Regions from separate parts of the Homo sapiens genome. Here region 1 is linked to region 2. The links come from fine-mapping of genetic effects on gene expression. A gene starts in region 2. The other region holds a variant in brackets. All regions are shown on one strand. Distances are from middle to middle.

Region 1 (9,566 bases), 23 kb before region 2:
TTAAATATATATATAAAAAATAAAAGGCCTGGTACGGTGGCTCATGCCTGTAATCCCAGCACTCTGGGAGGCCAAGGTGGGTGGATCACCTGAGGTTGGGAGTTTGAGACCAGCCTGGCCAACACAGTGAAACCTCATCTCTACTAAAAATACAAAAATTAGCTGGGTATGGTGGCGGGCACTGTAATCCTAGCTACTCAAGAGGCTGAGGCAGGAGAATCACTTGAACCCGGGAGGCAGAGGTTGCAGTGGGCCAAGATCGCACCATTGCGCTCCAGCCTGGGTGACAGAGTGAGACTCTGTCTCAAAAACAAACAAACAAACAGAAAAACTAAAATAAAATAAATAAAAAAAAATAAAATGCCTCTACTGTTTAAACCTACAACTTCAGGTCTGCTACCACCAGTTCACAAGACTGAGTCACTGGTGATTTACCAAATCTAATGGTGTTATTAAGCCTATCCTAAAAAATATCTCTGCAGCAGTTGGCATGATCTTTTCTCCGCTGAGTAACTTTCTTTTCTTTTCTTTTGAGGTGTAGTGTCGCTCTTGTCGCCCAGGCTGGAGTGCAATGGCGCAATCTCAGGTTCAAGGAATTCTTGTGCCTCAGCCTCCCAAGTAGCTGGGATTACAGGCGTCTGCCACCACGCCCAGCTAATTTTTGTATTTTTAGTAGAGACGGGGTTTCACTATGTTAGCCAGGCTGGTCTTGGAACTCCTGACCTAAGGCGATCCACCCATCTCAGCCTCCCAATGTGCTAGGATTATAGGCGTGAGCCACCGCTCCCAGCCTTTTTGTTTTTGTTTTTTTTTTGAGGCGGAGTCTCACTCTGTTGCCCAGGCTGGAGTGCAGTGGCATGATCTCGGCCCACTGCAACCTCCACCTCCCAGGTTCAAGCGATTCTCCTGCCTTAGCCTCCTAAGTAGCTGGGACTACAGGGGCACACCACCACACCTGGCTATTTTTTTTATTTTTAGTAGAGACGGGGTTTCACCATGTTAGCCAGGCTGGTCTCGATCTCCTGACCTCATGATCCGCCTGCCTCAGCCTCCCAAAGTGTTGGGATTACAGGCATGAGCCACCGTGCCTGGCCACCAGCCTTTGTTTTTTTTTTTTTTTTTTTTTTTGAGAGGGACACGGAGTCTTTCTCTGTCACCCAGGCTGGAGTGCAGTGGTATGTATGATCTTAGCTCACTGCAATCTTCACCTGCTGGGTTCAAGTGATTCTCCTGACTCAGCCTCCCAAGTAGCTGGGATTACAGTCACATGCCACCATGCCCAGCTAATTTTTTTTTTTTTTTAAAGTAGAGACTGGGCTTCACCATGTTGGACAGGGTGATCTCAAACTCCTGACCTCAAGTGATCTGCCCGCCTTGGCCTCCCAAAGTGCTGAGATTACAGGCATGAGCTACTGTGCCCAGCCTGTCTACCTCACTTTCTAAGCAGGAAGAAGCCACCTTAGATTCTTCCTTCTCTCTCAACCACTCAGTCATTCAGTCAGTCCTTTCATATTTAACTCCTAAATACTTCTGTAACTCCCTAAAATCAGGTTCTTATCTCTGTCCTGGAATGTTATCACTAATTGATCTCTGTTATCAACAATATCATGCTCCAATTTACCATATATTAGTCATTTTCCTCTATAAAAATCATACTCTACTTTAAAATGCAAACTTCTTCGTTTGGCTTAAAAGACCTTGTCCAATCTAGCCTCAGCCTCTTTCTCCAGTCTCCTTTCTCAATTTCTTACCTTAGATTCATAAATATCAAATACGCTGACCTCTGAGTCATAAATATCAAACACCCTTGACCTTGCCACAAACCCATCACAGTACCTTTGCGGATGCTTTCCCCAACCTGGAATTCCTTTTTTCTCTCCTCACTGGCAAATAACCTTCAAGACCCTATTCAAACATCACCTCCGCTGTAAAGCTTTTCCTACATCCCCAGGTAATTACCCCCCTTTTCTCCAGGGTTGCCTACCAAGTGTCCTTTTTAATGTATTTCCATTATCTCACTTGTCACAGTGTTTTATAATTATTTGCAGAATCTGTTTCCTACTAGATCGTGAGCTTCTTGAGGGCAGGAGCCTTGTCTTACTCATTTTTCTATCCCTAGTGCCTGCCATTATGTCTGACCCATAGCAGGACCTCAATAAATATTTGTTGAATAAATGACTCCGGGCCCTAAAACAAATGTAAGCGCACAGAGCAATAGGCTTTCTGCAGGGGTGGTTTACATAAATCGCATAAACACCAGATTTTCATTTGATGGGAATTAGATCTTTACTCCATGAAGAGAAGCGTTCTAGTTCATCATCTGACAGTGGTCACTCATCACCACCACTCTCAACCCCATGAGAAGCCACTTTTGAGGAAGAATGGAGTGGAGGAGAGGTCTTTACCGCTTCTCCAAATGGCAGTGTGTGATAACGATTCTGAACGACTATGGGGAAAAAAATCTACCGAGGCTGGAGACCCTGGAGAATGGGGGCAGCAACTATCTTCCTGGCCATGCACACTAGCCCTTCAAGACACGTCTCTAACCCCCACACCGCACCCCTCCCTCGTCTACACCCATCAGCGGGGCCTCGATCCTGCTGCCCCGCCCCCTCTTTCTCCGCACCCTCCAATATTTCCTGCCACAGAACCGCTTCATAATTGTGACCTTCTCGTCACTGGAACTTAAGGGCTACAGATCCTCTCATCCCTGATCCCCGCACCACTCTGCAGCCCCGACCCCCACCTCCAGCCTGCTCTTACTGTCCAGATAATGTTCCAAATACATCCCCGCAGCCATCTCGAAGCAAAACAAAGCAACTTCCGATCCGCCCCGGAAGTGACTGTAACGCGACAGGGGCCGAAGCCATTTTGCGGCTAAAGCCTTTCCGCCCTTAAAAGGAGAACTTCCGCCCTTAAAAGGAGAACTTCCGCCCTTAAAGGAGAACTTCCGCCCTTACTATATTACCGCCGGTACACATCCGCCCGACACTGAAACTTTTCCTTTTGCATGGTAGCCACGACCGCCCACAGTGAGGCGGCTGTAGCCCGCTTCCGCCCTTACAGACACCCCAGGACGCGACCGAGACAGGTATGACGTCACTGGAGGTCGCCATTTTGCATTCTCTAGCAAACTTTTTTCCCTCCAAAACGGGAATGTATGGTAATCCGTGCAGGGGTAACTGTTCACTTTAGGCTCATATTGCGTAAACATACCTTCTCAGCAACTGGAAGATCCAACTTTTTTTCCCTCTTTTGCAGAATGACTTTTTTCAAGCCAGTTAGTTTCTTAAGGAAGTTGGGGAAGAGTATCAGGCCTTGAGACATTTAAACCGTCTGAATTTCTATTCACTCACACAAACACCATCTCCCCCAGCATTATTTTTTTAACTTGAGAAAGATGATCACCTTTCTACTTATAAATACAAAGAATGACTCATAATAAAGCTATAATTCTGCACATCTTTTGTCAGAGCTCCTGTACGTTACACTAGAATACACTTTCACATATAAAATATTACTTCCTGCCTTGCCCTCTTGCTTTTTTTTTTTTTTTTTTGAGACAGAATTTTCACTCTTATTGCCCAGGCTGGAGTGCAATGGCGTGATCATGGCTCACCGCAACCTCCACCTCCCGGGTTCAAGTGATTCTTCTGTCTCAGCCTCCCGTGTAGCTGGGATTACAGGTATGCACCATCACGCCAGACTAATTTTGTATTTTTAGTAGAGATGGGGTTTCTCCATGTCGGTGAGGCTGGTCTCGAACTTCCGACCTCAGGTGATCTGCCCACCTCAGCCTCTCAAAGTGCTGGGATTACAGGTGCGAACCACTGTGCCTGGCCCCTCTTGCTACTCTCTAAGGGGGAAATCTCGTGTTTTTGTTTTCCTTTTGTTTATATGTGATGTTAGCATCATAATTCTGAAGGGATTGAGGGATGCAGCAGTATCACTACTGGGCTAGTTGGCTAGTTAGTTGCTAGCCATCACTCTAGTCAGCTATGGTAGAGTGATTTCTATGGTTTTCATCAGAATGGGAAGCAGTCAAGGGTATGAGAGGCTGCCAACACACTAGGCTGTCAACACACTGCCAACACAAAGGCCATAACCTAATAGTGGTGTTAGTAAGATAGTATTTTAGAGATAGCTGCCACCCCTCACACTTTTCGTACCCTCACACATCCTTCATAAGAATTACCAATGTCTTACGGCAAGTTTTTAAAGAGACAGACTTTCAGCTATATAATTTCTACCAAATATGTGGAGAAGAGGAACTTCCAACCCGGGGCGGATTGGAAGTTGCTTTGTTTTGCTTCGAGATGGATGCAGGGATGTATTTGAAACATTATCTGGACAGTAAGAGCAGGCTGGAGGAGGGGGTTCAGGGGCTGTAGAGTGGTGGGGGTATCAGAGCTGAAAGGATCTGTAGCCTGTAAACCCCAGGTTTACTAGTGTGCAGGTAGTAAGATACAGCAATAGAATCCGGGAAACTGCTCTAATTACAAAAGTCATGCTTTTCGGTAACTTGATCTCTGTGCCTGTTTTACTATACAATGAGACTACTACCTCCCTCATAGGGTTGTTGGAATAAGTGAGTGTGAGTGTATCCATAAAAAGAGTAGATTCTAGTTCTAATACTGGTGATGAAGTTAGGGCCATTAGGGCCTTTTCAAGAGTTGGTGAGAGTGGGAGGAAAAAGCAGTAAATATGCAGGGAGCTAAGAAACATTGGCATATTTGGTCATATGTGATACATTCATTGGTATTACACAACATATTGAGACACCATCTTAGGTGCCCACACAGGATATCTAGCACTAAATTAAGTGGGCTTTATTTATCCCAGCCCAACTACATAACAAGTACTATTGGCCAGCAGTCCCAGAGTTCTCAGGATGTGGGAGCTTGGTCACAACTTTCACAACTTTTTCGGTGCTTAAAGCAAGGTTTT[TTTTTTTTTG/T]TTTTTTTTTTTTTTTCCAGACAGAATCTCGCTCTGTGGCCCAGGCTGGAGTGCAGTGGTGCAATCCCGGCTCACTGCAACCTCCGCCTCCCAGGTTCAAGTCATTCTTCTGCCTCAGCCTGCAGCTGGGACTACAGGCGCGTGCCACCACACCTGGCTAATTTTTGTATTTTTATTTTACTTTTTTGAGAGAGAGTCTCACTCTGTCGCCCAGGCTGGAGTGCCATGGCACGATCTTGGCTCACTGCAACCTCTGCCTCCTAGGTTCAAAAGATTCTCCTGCCTCAGCCTCCTGAGTAGCTGGGATTGCAGGCGCCCACCACTATGCCTAGCTTATTTTTTGTATTTTCAGTAGAGACGGGGTTTCACCATACTGGCCAGGCTGGTCTCGAGCTCCTAACCTCATGATTCACCTGTCTCGGCCTCCCAAAGTGCTGGGATTACAGGCGTGAGCCACCGTGCACGGCCATCAATTTTTGTATTTTTAGTAGAGATGGGGTTTCACCATGTTGGCCAGGCTGGTCTTGAACTCCTGACGTCAAGTAGTCTGCCTGCCTCGCCCTCCCAAAATGCTGGGATTACAGGCGTGAGCCACCGCACCCAGCCTTAAAGCAAGTTACTTAATTCTCAAAAAAGGTATCTTCAGAGTTATCTAGTCCAATCCCTTCACTAACAGTTGAAGAAGCACCCTGGCCAACACTGGTTGATGGTAGGCAAAGGGCTGAAGTCCAGGTTTCATGACCACATTCTACTCCATAGTACTACAGCTCTCCTGCATAAATCAATCTTGCACCCCTTAACCGGTTATGATTTCCACAAGGTAACAAATACACATATGTATACACATTGCCAACTGCAAGCCCCTCTTCCACAGACTCAGGCAGGAGTGTAGGTCCTTTCAAGAGGCTTCCATTTTTCTTCCATAGGGAGCTTAGCTGTTTTGTTAACACATAACCAAAGCCTTGCTCTCACATATTTAGGCAATGCAATCCCCATGACAGAATGTGTATGTAGAAGTCCTCATAAACCAGGATTTCACTGGAGACATCATGAAACTGTACCCTTCCATGACTGGAGAATTGCACAAATGGGGCATCATCACACAAGCACTTGTTCATCACACACACACTCTGGTATAAATCCTCAGTACTGTTCTTGGACATCTCCCCAAATACCTTTTCCGCATGCTCGCTCACATCAGTAGCTCCACTGCCTCTGATCCTTTTACATGAATTTATTTCTATACAATGTTCTAAAAACACCCCTTGGTTTGTACATAAGTTTTTTTCTTTTTTTCTTCATTTTTAAATTACTTTATAACAACTGGTTTCCTGATTTTTTTTTTAATTTCCTTTCCTCTGAAATCTGCCATGATTTAAAAAAAAAAAAAAAAGACAAAAAGAAAAATGCTGTGGCTAGAGGACAGGGGTGGAGAGAGGGAAAAAAAGGACAAAAATAAACAAAACATCAAATATGAAAATTCTCAGAGATAATGCATTTATAAACACAGAAATGGTTACAACAAAGATGGCCGTGATGAGTGAGTATAATATATTTATATATATATATTTATATATAAATCCGTGTCCGGCATCTGACTGTGGCACCTAGGGAGCTAAGTCCAGTCCTTGCGTTTGCCTTGAACTCTCCCTTCTCCGCAACACCCCTGTTTTGGAGTTTCACAGATAACACAAAGCCTCCCACAGCTCCTTGGGGGTGGGTTGGGGAGACTGAGAGTATAGGGTCTTTGTAGGCAGAGAAGGAGAGAGGCTTCAAGGAAATCCGTAAAACCATAACACACACTTCTAAGCCACCTGTGACCAACTTGGGAATTTCTGGCCCCTTGGGGACCACATCTCAGCCCTTGCCCCCTTCAAATAAAAGGAGGTCTAGCCCCTACCCCAAATCTCCTTCTACCAGCAGTCAATAGGAAGCAAAGTGAGACGATGTAGGGGAAGAAATGGCTCTCAGGGACTGAGGCATTTGAGAAACCTCTGTTCTTTTGCAGGCAAGAATAGAACAAGAGGCTGGTTGCATTTGGGGCTCCCTTTTCTCTGTTATCTGGGAGGGCCAGCCTCTAGTCTTACATCAGCCCAAACTTTGAGGATAAGGAGGGTAAGGATAGGGTAAGTGGCCACACTGGACAAGGTTCTATGAGGTCATAGCAAATCCTTCCCTTGAGCACCGACCCCCAGTTTTAGAAGCTTTGCTTGGGAGGGGAGGCTGCTGGATGACACCATCAGCTCAGTATTCCTTTGCAATCAGGAGGGCTGATGTTCCTTTTGAAGAAGAGTTCAGAAAAAGGATGGTATCCTGTGAAGGAAAGCCGTGACAGAGGCCCAAGGAGATGGAGCCAAGGCCTGTCAAGGAAGAAAAGGACTTTTCCCACCAAGAGTTGGAGAAAGAAGACACCAGGACTACTTCTTCCTCTTCCCAGTGGGTGGCAGCACGGATCTCTAAGAGCTGGCCAGGTGCTCCACCTGGATGGTGCTGGTGGTGACAGTGAGGCAGATGTCCTTATGATGCTCCGCCGTCTTATACGGGGTCAGGTCAAAGGAACACTGGGGTGGAGGGTTGGGATTGCTGTCCCCACCACCCCCACCCTGGGGGGCTGCCCCAGGAGACTGGAAGTGTGGTGGTGGCTGTTGCTGCTGCTGCTGCTGCTGCTGCTGCTGCTGCTGCTGCTGCTGTGATGCCTGGGAGGCCTGGGCCTGGGCCTGGGCTTGAGCCTGAGCCTGAGCCTGGGCTTGAGCTTGAGCCTGGGCCTGGGCCACTGCTGCCGCTGCTGCTGCTGCCTGCACCTGTTGCTGAAGATCAGGCGGGTTGTGTTTGCGCATATGTTTCATAAGGTATGTTTCCTGAGGGAGATGGTAAAAAGAAGTTGAGGGATAAAGAGGAAGGAAAAGAGATTACTTGTAACTAGCACCCCAGGCTCTGATTCTGCTGTAAGCAGAGTAAGCTTTATACTGGTTTTCTGGAGCCAAGACTGAGCAAAACTCAAGTAGCACTTTCAGTGGCTCACTACTGAGAAAAAAAAGAGAGGAACCTTTAGAAGTCACTCAACATTCAACTGGCAAAGGAATGAGCTGCTATTTTTTTCAAAGACCCCTGAATGAAACAACTTTACAACCTTTTCTGGAGTCTCATGGAAAATATCTAACTGGGCCAGGTGCGGTGGCTCACACCTGTAATCCCAGTACTTTGGGAGGCTGAGGTAGGTGGATCACTTGAGGTCAGGAGTTTGAGACCAGCCTGGGCAACATGGTGAAACCCCATGTCTACTAAAAATACAAAAAGTTGCTGGGCATGGCAACATGCACCTGTAATCCCACCTACTTGGGAGGCTGAGGCAGGAGAATCGCTTGAACCCAGGAGGTGGAGGTTACAGTGAGCCGAGCCGAGATCACACCACTGCACTCCAGCCTGGGTGACAGGGCGAGACTGTGTCTCAAAAAGAAAAAAAAAAAAAAAAGAAGAAGAAAATGCCTAACTGAAATCCAGCTCCCCTCAAAATTTCAAGTGGCTTTATTTTGCCTTATGTTTAAGTAAAATGAAGAATTACAGCTTATGCGTCTCTATAGGATTAGGAGATCAGGCATCCCCTAAATTCCTCAGAATGGGTCTAATTAATTTCTGAATATTTACCTGTTCTGCTAAGTTGGAGCTAGGGAGGCAGGGTATTCACTGCAACAGATCTCTACCCAGAAAATGGGGTGAAGTGGACTGTACTCTTAGAGGACTATGAGGAAGGAGAGAAGAAACGGAGCACTCACTGATGTGTATGCCCGACTGCAGATAGTGCAGGTGTACACCTTGGCATGCTTCACTGTGTGCGTAGACAGGTGCACCTCTAGTGAGGCTGCATCCGTGTACGCCCGATGACAGTTGTGGCACTTGAAGGGTTTATCTTTGTTGTGTTGCCGTCTGTGGGACTGAGAAAATTGGGAGAAACCAGAATGAATACATTGTACTCTTTCCTCCTGCCCCCTTGACCTCGATGGAAAGCAAAAAGGTAGGTGTCAGGCCTCCCAGCTTCTCCCTCTATCTGAAGAAAGTAGAAATTGTTTCAAATGAAACTTGAGAAGCTACAGGCTAAGGGTGGAAGCATACCTCATGTAGCACATACCAGGATCCCAAGACAGCTTATGCCCGTCTCACCAGTCCAGTGGTTCTTAAAATGAGGCATGGGGATCTTTAGGGAACACTAAGACCTTCACAGGGGGCCCACAGGGTCAAAACTCTTTTTTTTTTTTTTTCCCAGATGAAGTCTCTCACTCTGTCGCTCAGGTTGGAGTGCAGCGGCACAATCTCGGCTCATTGCAACCTCCGCTTCCCGGGTTCAAGCGATTCTCCTGCCTCAGCCTGCAAGTAGCTGGGACTACAGGCACATGCCACCAGGCCTGGCTAATTTTTTTTGTATTTTTAGTAGAGACAAGGTTTCACCGTGTTGGCCAGGCTGGTTTCCAACTCCTGAGCTCAGGTGATCCGCCCGCCTCCGCCGCCCAAAGTGCTGAGATTACAGGTGTGAGCCACCGCGCCCAGCCAAATCTTTTCAAAATAATAAGACAATGTTTGCCTTTGTCTCTCTTGAACCTGGGAAGTTGCAGTAA
Region 2 (9,320 bases):
CAGGACTTTGAGACCAGCCTGGTCAACATGGTGAAACCCCATCTCTACTAAAAATACAAAAATTAGCCAGGCATGGTGGCACACGCCTGTAATCCCAGCTACTCAGGAGGCTGCGGCAGGAGAATTGCTTGAACCCAGGAGGTGGAGGTTGCAGCGAGCCGAGATCTAACCACTGCACTGCAGCCTGGGCAACAGAGCAAGACTGTCTCAAAAAAAAAATAAAATAAAATAAAAAAGATTAAAAATAATAATTAGGAGGGAGAATAAACGAAAGAAAGGGCCAATGTATAATTTTCCCAAAAGAATCAAGGAAGTTGGCTGGGTGTGGTGGCTCATGCCTGTAATCCTAACACTTTGGGAGGGCGAGGTAGGTGGGTCACTTGAGCTCAGGAGTTCAAGATCACCCTGGCCAACACGGCAAAACCCCATCTCTAATAAAAATACAAAAATTAGCAAGGTGTGGTGGCACACACCTGTAGTCCCAGCTACTTGGGAGGCTGAGGCAGGAGAATCACCTGAGTGCAGTAAGTCGAGATTGCACCACCACAGTCCAGCCTGGGTGACAGAGCAAGACCCTGTCTCAAAAAAAAAAAAAAAAAAAAAGAATCAAGGAAGTAAAGTAAATGCACTATGGATGTGAAAACGTAGGAAGGAGGAGGCTGAGCACGGTGGCTCATGCCTGCAATCCCAGCACTTTGGGAGGCCAAGGCAGGTGGATCACAAGGTCAGAAGTTCAAGACCAGTCTGGCCAAGATGGTGAAACCTTGTCTCTACTGAAAGTACAAATATTAGCCAGGCATGGTGGCGCACGCCTGTAGTCCCAGCTATTCAGGAGGCTGAGAAAGGAGAATCACCTGAACCTGGGAGGTGGAGGTTGCAGTGTGCCAAGATCGCACCACTGCACTCGAGCCTGGGCAACAGAGTGAGAATCCGTCTCAAAAAAAAAAACTGGTGGACAATATCACCACTATCATTATCATTAAAACTTATTAAGCACTTATTGTGTTCAAGGTAGTGTTCTAAGCACTTTACAACTACTACATCATTTAGTCCCTGCAACAATGAGGTAGGTACTGTAATTCCCATTTGAAATGAGGAAACTGGAGGCACAGAGTCCAACAGTAAATAGCAAAGCAGGAATGTGAATCCAGGCACCAAAGGGCAAGTTAAGGAAAGGGGTTCTACAAGGAACCAAAACCATATAACTGTAGTACACACTTTCTGATGTTATGGCTTGATCCAGGAAATAAAATTTAGAATATTTCCAGGAATGAACTATTTTCCAGCTAGTTCTCAAAAAATGTTTTCAAAATTGAAGTTTTTGATAACAGCAAAATGACATGCAGTTCAAGGTCATATTCCTTATTCTGTGAAACCTCACTTAGCTACCAAGATAACTTACTTTAGGATGACAGAGCCTGAATAAAGAGGCCGGACTTTACAAAGGAAAATAAATAAAAAGCCCCTCCACTTACTTGGATGCCTAGTTTATTGCATCCAATAAACTGGTGTGTCTGGTCCAAGGACAAGACACTACATATGCGTTACCAGCTTCCGATAAATAGGTCAGCCCAAAAGGGAGACCACAGAGAGAACTGCTCATCCAACTATAAGCAACCTTTACCAGCAAAATGACACCTGAGAAATGCTATGCCACTGTGCTACTGATGAGGCTGACTTCATCTTTGTACTCCTGAAATGAGATCAATGGAGAGCTAAGAATCAAAACTATTGCTAGAATACAATGTAAATGGCGCCCCCTAGAGTTGTGTAACAGGGCGTTCTGGGGCCAGATCACTCAAATATCTGCTTACTGTCTGTTTTACCGCTTACTCTATCTTTCGTGGAGGAAATTTCTCCAAATCATCCCAACATTCAATCAGGCACATATCAACATTCTTATCACCCAAAGAAGCCCACTGATGTTACACAGAAAACTCATGTCTACACAGAGAGTGCCAATTTTAATGATTATGCCTATATATTTAAAGAAAGTACTTTGGGAGGCCAAAGTAAGAGAATCACTTGAGCCCAGGAATTCAAGAACAGTCTGGGCAAAATAGGGAGACCCTGTATCTACAAAAAATTAAAAAAGTAGCCGGGCATGGTGGCTCACACCTGTAGTCCCAGTTACTTGGGAGGCTGAGGCAGGAGGATTGCTTGAGCCCAGGAAGTCGAGGCTGCAGTCAGCCATTATCACGCCACTGCACTCCAGTCTGGCCAAAAGAGTGAGACCCTGTCTCAAAAAGAAAAAAAGAAAAAGAAATAGAAAGGAAAGAAAAAACAGAAGAGAAGGAAAGATATAATTTGGTGGAAAGAAAAATGCTGGCAGGCTGAAAATCTGGGTTCTCATATCAACTTTACTATTGCACCAAGCCTCAACTGTTCTGTTAATAGGAAGGGAGGTTTACTGCTGGGCGAGGTGGCTCACACCTGTAATCCTAGCACTTTGGGAGGCCGAGGCAGGTGGACTGCCTGAGCTTAGGAGTTCAAGACCAGCCTGGGCAACATGGTGAAATCCCATCTCTACTAAAATACAAAAAATTAGCTGGGCATGGTGGCATGCGCCTGTAATCCCAACTACTCAGGAGGCTGAGACAGGGAATTGCCTGAACCTGGGAGGTGGAGTGGAGGTTGCAGTGAAAGGAGATCAGACCACTGCACTCCAGCCTGGGCGACAGAGCGAGACTCAGTCTCAAAAAAAAAAAAAAAAAAAAAAAAAGAAGGCAGGTTTACTCTAATTAAGTTGGAGAGTAATTTTCTCTTAAGAGACACAAGGAACTACATATTCCTTCTCCAATCTCAAATCTCAGAAGCCCTCAGGAGATAAAGAAGAGAGACACTATCAAGTATTAATAATAGTCGTGAAACACGGTAGGACTTGAACTCTTGGCCCAGAGCTTTGTCTATCTGACCACATCCTTCCGTAATGCTACCAACCATCCAGGGATAAAGATGACATGGCCTCCAGCAGGTGTTTTTGGCAGATATGGTGAAGACCACCATCTCTTTCCCAGAACCCACTAATTGTTTTTTTACTGTTGTTTTTTCAAATAAAGCATGATTTTCTTTCCCCAAGAAAACAGCATTCCCTTAACACAACCAACCCTTAGAAAACCATGAAATACACTCATCAAGTTCAGTAGCTAGAGAATGGCCTTGGGAATCAAGACTTCTGAATTCTTTTTTTATGAGACAGAGTCTCATTTTGTTGCCCAGGCTGAAGTGTAATGGCGTGATCTCAGCTCACTGCAACCTCCACCTCCTGGGTTCAAGCAATTCTCCTGCCTCAGCCTCCCAAGTAGCTGGGATTACAGGCGCTTGCCAACACATCTGGATAATTTTTGTATTTCTAGTAGAGACGGGATTTTGCTATGTTGGCCAGGCTGGTCTTGAACTTCTGACCTCAGGTGATCCGCTCTCCTCAGCCTCCCAAAGTGCTGAGATTACAGGCGTAAGCCACCGTGCCCGGCCAAGACTTGTGAATTCTAATTCTAGGTCCTATATCAGTGGATGACTCTTAACTATTTAAGTGGATGAATTAACCATTTTACTAGGTTTCTATCAGGATGGAGGATGGAAGAGGATGAGGCCTGTATAAATAAGTTTGTAAGGCATATGGTGATGAGATAAAGGCAGCACAAAAAAGAGAAAGAATGAAATGCCCCAAGTGCTCCTGAAAAGAAGAGTTACAGAAACACTTCCACAAGATGAGGACTATTAGCGACAATTAGTGAAAATTACATAAGGACTACATAATTACAAAGGAACTACCCAAAAGTAACAAATCTATAGCCTCCGGTTTAGAAATCATCTACAAGTAGCATCAACAAGAAAAAGATGGAAAAAAACAATCAACTTGAATTCAACTACAGAAAGAACTTAAGACGCTATTGAGAAACCATTCCAAAACACACAACTGCAGAAAGGTTACCTTAGCTCAAGACTTGAAATGAAGAAACACAGAGAAAGTTTTTTTTGTTTCTCCAAAAGGAAACAAAATCTCTTTCTCTCAGGGTCTAAAGACATTCAAGAAGGGCCATCCCAGTAGGATGTGACGCTTTCCCGCCAGTATCCATAAACTCTTCCAAGTACAAGTAACTCAGAACAAATGCACCCCAATGTTACTGGGAAACATCATCACACCATACACAAACAAACTAAACAGGACTGCTACCACCACACAGCTGGCAACCTGGGCCAACAGCTTCTAGCCTGGGCACCACCGGACCACTTTACCCTGCATCCTGTGGGAGGGACGGCACGGTGGTTCTCCTTGCCCTGTCTGTTCCACTATAAATGATGGATCTGGGGAATGTGAGGCCAAAATAAATAAATAAGACTGGAGAAGAAGAGATATGTACCCAATATTTAATCAACAACTTGGCTCAGAAACCCACAGGGCATTTTATAAACCAACCTCTGGGATCATAAGTTCTGAACTCAAACTCTTTAGGTCCACTCACTGTCATTTTCAGGCTACCCGAAACTCTTCCAGACCTACTTCTGGAGTCTACTCCGTACAGTTTTATCCACTTCACTCCAGACTAACCATGAAGCAGTTTTTTTTTTCCCCTGAAAATTTCATCTTGCCATACCAAATTCAAATAACCCTGTGTCACAGATTCTAATCACTCCACAGACCCACTTCTAACACTCCACTGGACTATTTGGGATAGGAACTCCATTCTAAACTCAGCTCTGCTTGTTCCAGACACAGGAAAGCAATTCCATAAGGACTATATTGGCATTTAGGGTCTTTGTGTCCCAAAGCAGAATAAAGATTTCCCCTTTGGACACAAGGCAACACTATTCAGTGGCTTCACCTGAGCATTTCATATTTCATTCCTGATGAGCATTAGTAGGAATGGAAAGTGATGGGGGATAGCGCCAACTTTTTACACAAAAACTTCCTGACCCTCAAGAGATAATAGAAAAAAACTGATTTCTCTCCACAACAATCTCAGCATTACAATTGCTATTACTTTAAGTATTCTATCACATTGTGAAACACACACACGCCCCATTTGGTTGTGACCCCTTCTCCCCCAAAACCAGAAAAGCCATTAACCCAAAAATCATCTTACCCTCTCTCTCTCTTCCTCCTGCCGTCTTATTCCTTCTCCTTTCCAGGGCTCCTGAACTTTCTGTAAACAAATTGTCTAGGTTACAGGGGCCAGGCAGGGTGCAGCCACCAGAGAACTGTGGAGAACCTCAGGAATTATTTGTCAGCAGTCAGTCTGGAAGGCAGGCAGACCCCCCAGCCAGCAATCCAAAGACGGGTGGATATAATAACAGCAGTCTAGTGCTACCCTCTACGTGGATACAAGAGAAATAAATCCAATTCCCAGAAACTAAGACGAATTCTATCACCAGCGTTTGGGTTTCACTCCTAGGCTCAGAGACTGGTCCTTGTTCGTTCCCAGGCCACAGGTAACCAGGGGTCAGAGAACATTAGAGATGGAGGAGGAGGAGGGTCTGTGCCCCTGAGGAGTGGCTTCAGAAGGCAAAGCTGAGGGCTGGGGGATGCACAAGACCTTGTGGCAGGCACAGTGCCAGTTCAGGCCCAGCCACTTCCTCTAGCCTTCCCCCCACTTCTTCGAGGACTTCGCCCCCTGCCTACCCGAGGCCTTGTGCCAAGAAGTACCTCCCTCAGCCTGCACCGTGGTCTATCTACTGGAGACCCCAGCTGTCCCCTCAAAACCTTCGCTCCCCTGAGACAGTTCCTGGGAGCCTTCTCCTGATGTCGTCCCCTACCCCTTTCTCAAAGACCCTTCCTTGGGACGTCCCTCCTTCCCCTCCAGGGAGCTGAACTCTGCCACCCACCAGACAGGCACCCGCCCCCTAAACCCCCCCATTCCTTCCCATCGCCCGCTCCTCCACAACCACTTCCGGTTCCGGGACGGACACACACACAGTCACATCGTGGACCCCCCCTTCCCCGCCTGCCCAAGGAAAAGGGGAGGGGGGAGGAGCAAGCAGCTTGGCGCGCGCCGGCTGTAGCGGCGCGAGACTCACCGGGCGGCGACGGCTGCGGCGGCGCCAGAGCCTGAGCCAGGGCGCGGGAGGGGCGGCGTTTGCTGGGAAAGGAGGGAGCCGAGGAGGGTGGGAGGACCAGGAAGGGGCGAGGGAGGGGAAAAAGCGCAAGGCGCAGCGCGCGGGCACGCACTTCTGGAGCGAGACAGACCCACACACTCACACGCACGGAACGCGCGCGAGACACCCGCAGGGCGGGGGCGCGAGGTAGTGGGTGGCCCCCCCTCCTTGCTGCCCTCCCCTTGCACTCACCCGGAAGTGGTGCTGCAGCTCGTGCTCCCGCGAACCCCAGTTCCTCCACGCCCCCCTCCCTCCCCCCAACAGGCTCAGAGAAGAGCTCTGCGGAGAGAAGGCGGGAGCGCCGGAAACGAAAAGGGGGGAGGGAGGGAAATAGCAATGTAGGGGGGGCGCTAATGGAGAAAGAGGGGCGTGCAGAAGCCGAGTCACTTCCGGGAGTGGCTGGAACACTTCCGGCGCCGCTAGCGCTGCGAGATATTCAGGGCAGAAGTTACGATAACTCGGGGCGGAAATAGCTTCTGCCCAGCGACTGGGAAGAGGGGATGTGACGCTATAGCGGAAGTGAAGGCGGGTTCCGCTAGGGGCAAAAGCTGAAACCGGAGGACTCCGGCCCTGAGCTTCCGGAAGGGACATCTGGGGAAGGTGGGGGGGTGGAAACGCGACAGGTTCATGAATTATCCATCAAGGTAGGAGAGGAGGTGTGGGTTCTTCAGATGCTGGGACCCCGTTTCTCTTCCCTCTGGATGTTGAATAAGCTGATGTAGGAAATTACCATTATTTTTTCTGATACCCCCAAGAATGTCTCAATGCTTTGAATATGCGGGAAAGGACTAGGACGTATCCTTGTTTTTCGGAGGTCCCTACTTAGGTCCAGTTAGAAACTCTCCCAGCCATCAAAATCTGTCTCTCTGACACATCCCTTACTTTACTTTGGTCTTTTCTTGTTGCCCATACCCACATCTCTATCCCCTTACCCTGTTTTACTTAAATATAGCACTTATTACTGCCTGATTTATTGTTTGCTGTCCACCTCTCCCAACTAAAATATTGGCTACAGGACAGCGAGGACTGAATTGTTCGTTGCTGTATCCTCATATCCTGGCAGTTAAGTGGTCTGTAAACTCTTGTTGTATAAATGAACTATAGTTCATTATGAACACCTAAATATGAACCCTTTTAGGAAGCCTTGCCTGATTGCTCCAACCTGTAATGGTCCCTCTGAATTCCCATAGTATTTAATACGTACCTTTTATTGATATTTTAACTATTTCATACATGTGATTCCCCAGCAAGATTGTCAGTTCCTCATGGAAGGAAATACGTTGCTTTGCTGAGCATATAGTAAATGCTGAATATGTTGTTTGAACAAGTGAATGCTGTTACAAGCGTGCACCCCGACCTGGCCAGAATCCCCCTGGGCTCAGCTCTAAGCAGAACTGAGGTCTCTCCTACTAATGGTAAGAGCCTCTTGCTGAGAAAAATAACCTTTTTTTTTTTTTTTTAAAGACAGAGTGTCACCCTGTTGCCCAGGCTGGAGTGCATTGGCGCCATCTTGGCTCACTGCAACCTCTGCCTCCTGGGTTCAAGCGATTCTCCTGCCTCAGCCTCCCTAGCAGCTGGGATGACAGTCGCCCGCCACCACACCGGGCTAATTTTTTGTATCTTTAGTGGAGTCGGGGTTTCACCATGTTGGCCAGGCTGGTCTCGAACTCCTGACCTCAACTGATCCACCTGTCTCAGCCTCCCAAAGTGCTGGGATTACAGGCGTGAGCCACCACGCCCAGCAAAAAATAACTTTAACAGAAATAATTATAATGCTCATTTTACAGATAATGAAAATAAGCCTGTAAAGGATTAAGTGATTTTTTCCCCCAAGGTCAAAGCAAGAAAGTAACAAAGTACGCCTTTAAATATTTAAATAGATGATGCATTTCATTGTAATTGTAGTTTGTATCTTTTTTAAAGTGTCTGTTCCCTTTATCACATTTTTGGGCTCAGCACTCAGTCTCTGTTGACTGAGTAGCAACAGTTGGCAGAGTAAGGATTTTAAGGGCTCAGATGTGACCAGACCTATTGCTGTGTGGGTTAGAGATTGCTGATTCAAGAAACCTTGACATCAGGGGCTGGTATTGAAAGGTGGGAACAGGAAATAGTAATAATAGCTATACGTTCTGGTTCTCCTCCTGCTCTTTTCCTATTTATGTTAACTGGGCACTTCCTGGGTCTCCGTGTCTCCGTCAGCCCTATTCCTGCCCTTGCTATAAGAAGGAAGTTTCCCAGCTACTTGGGAGGTTGAGGCAGGAGAATCACTTGAACCTGGGAGGCGAAGGTTGTGGTGAGCCAAGATTGCGCCATTGCACTCCAGCCTGGGCAACAAGAACTAAACTCCATCTCAAAAAAAAAAAAAAGAAGTTTCAAGTGCTTTGAACTCCTTAGGGAAAAGCTTTAGAACAATAAATGTGGGGCGTAGGGGGAGGAGGGCTGTTAATTTTAGCCTGGGGTTCTCCAGCTGGCATACTGTTTCCATCTTGAATCACTTCCACACCCTAAGCTGTGCCTGGGAGATCCCTCCCTCCTCCTGGGGGCTTCCCCATTCCCTGGTTTGGTCTAAGCCGCAGTGGCAAGCATTCCAGAAAAATGCTAAGAGAAGCCTGGCTGAGTCATTTGATGCACAGCTCAGGAGGCAAAGAAAGGATGGTGATGAGACGCTGGTTCCAGTGGTGGCTGTGATGTGTGACCTCGAAGAACCTTCCAGTTCCCAAAAGGACAGCATGGCCATTGTTTTTTTCTTGGCTAGTGACTCTGCTGCAGCTTTCTGAGGACCTCTCAAAGCCCCACAGTCTCTGTTTCAACTACAGGAGAGAAAAGTTAGGGCTTGCTCCCCAGGGCCTTACGACTCTTCATGGCTAACGTGACAGTGCAGTATCATTTGGGAGAATTTTTTTAGTACAGTTCAGAGTCTGGAACAGTCTCCTTCCTCCTCTGTCTTTCCTGCCTTCTGACTTTCCATGGGGAAAGGAGGACATTTAGGAAGAGGGAACAGGTGAGGATTTCCAGTACCTTGCTGGTGTATTTTAATTTATTTAAATTTAGAGAAACAGTGGTCTAATCAGGCAGTAATTAATTCCCTCTTCATTAGGGGCCTTCATGTTTGCCTTTTGCATATGGATGAGCCACGGGTCACACTGTCCCTTTGAAGAGAGATCCTTGCTGAAGGTGAGAGCCCAGTGTGCTCTCCGGCACTTGAGCTCCTTCCCCTTCTGTGC

Evidence for each region. PIP is the estimated chance that this variant, and not a neighbour inherited with it, causes the effect.
Region 1: its variant is fine-mapped to the expression of ZNF384 in monocytes (BLUEPRINT, PIP 0.95).

What each region holds. Positions count from the first base shown.
Region 1 is chr12:6,660,302-6,669,867 of GRCh38, forward strand. ING4 (inhibitor of growth family member 4) reads right to left here and starts at 2,818. Exons shown (of 8, transcript NM_016162.4): 1 at 2,764-2,818. The coding sequence starts at 2,800. It overlaps ZNF384 (zinc finger protein 384), which reads right to left. Exons shown (of 12, transcript NM_001385745.1): 11 at 8,730-8,888; 12 at 6,176-7,814. The coding sequence ends at 7,413. RefSeq lists an enhancer at 2,789-2,848. The variant TTTTTTTTTG/T (reference allele first, on the strand shown) is at 4,948.
Region 2 is chr12:6,683,080-6,692,399 of GRCh38, forward strand. ZNF384 (zinc finger protein 384) reads right to left here and starts at 6,296. Exons shown (of 12, transcript NM_001385745.1): 1 at 6,019-6,296; 2 at 5,088-5,147. It also overlaps a transcript of PIANP not described here. RefSeq lists silencers at 6,145-6,254, 6,335-6,414 and an enhancer at 6,148-6,774.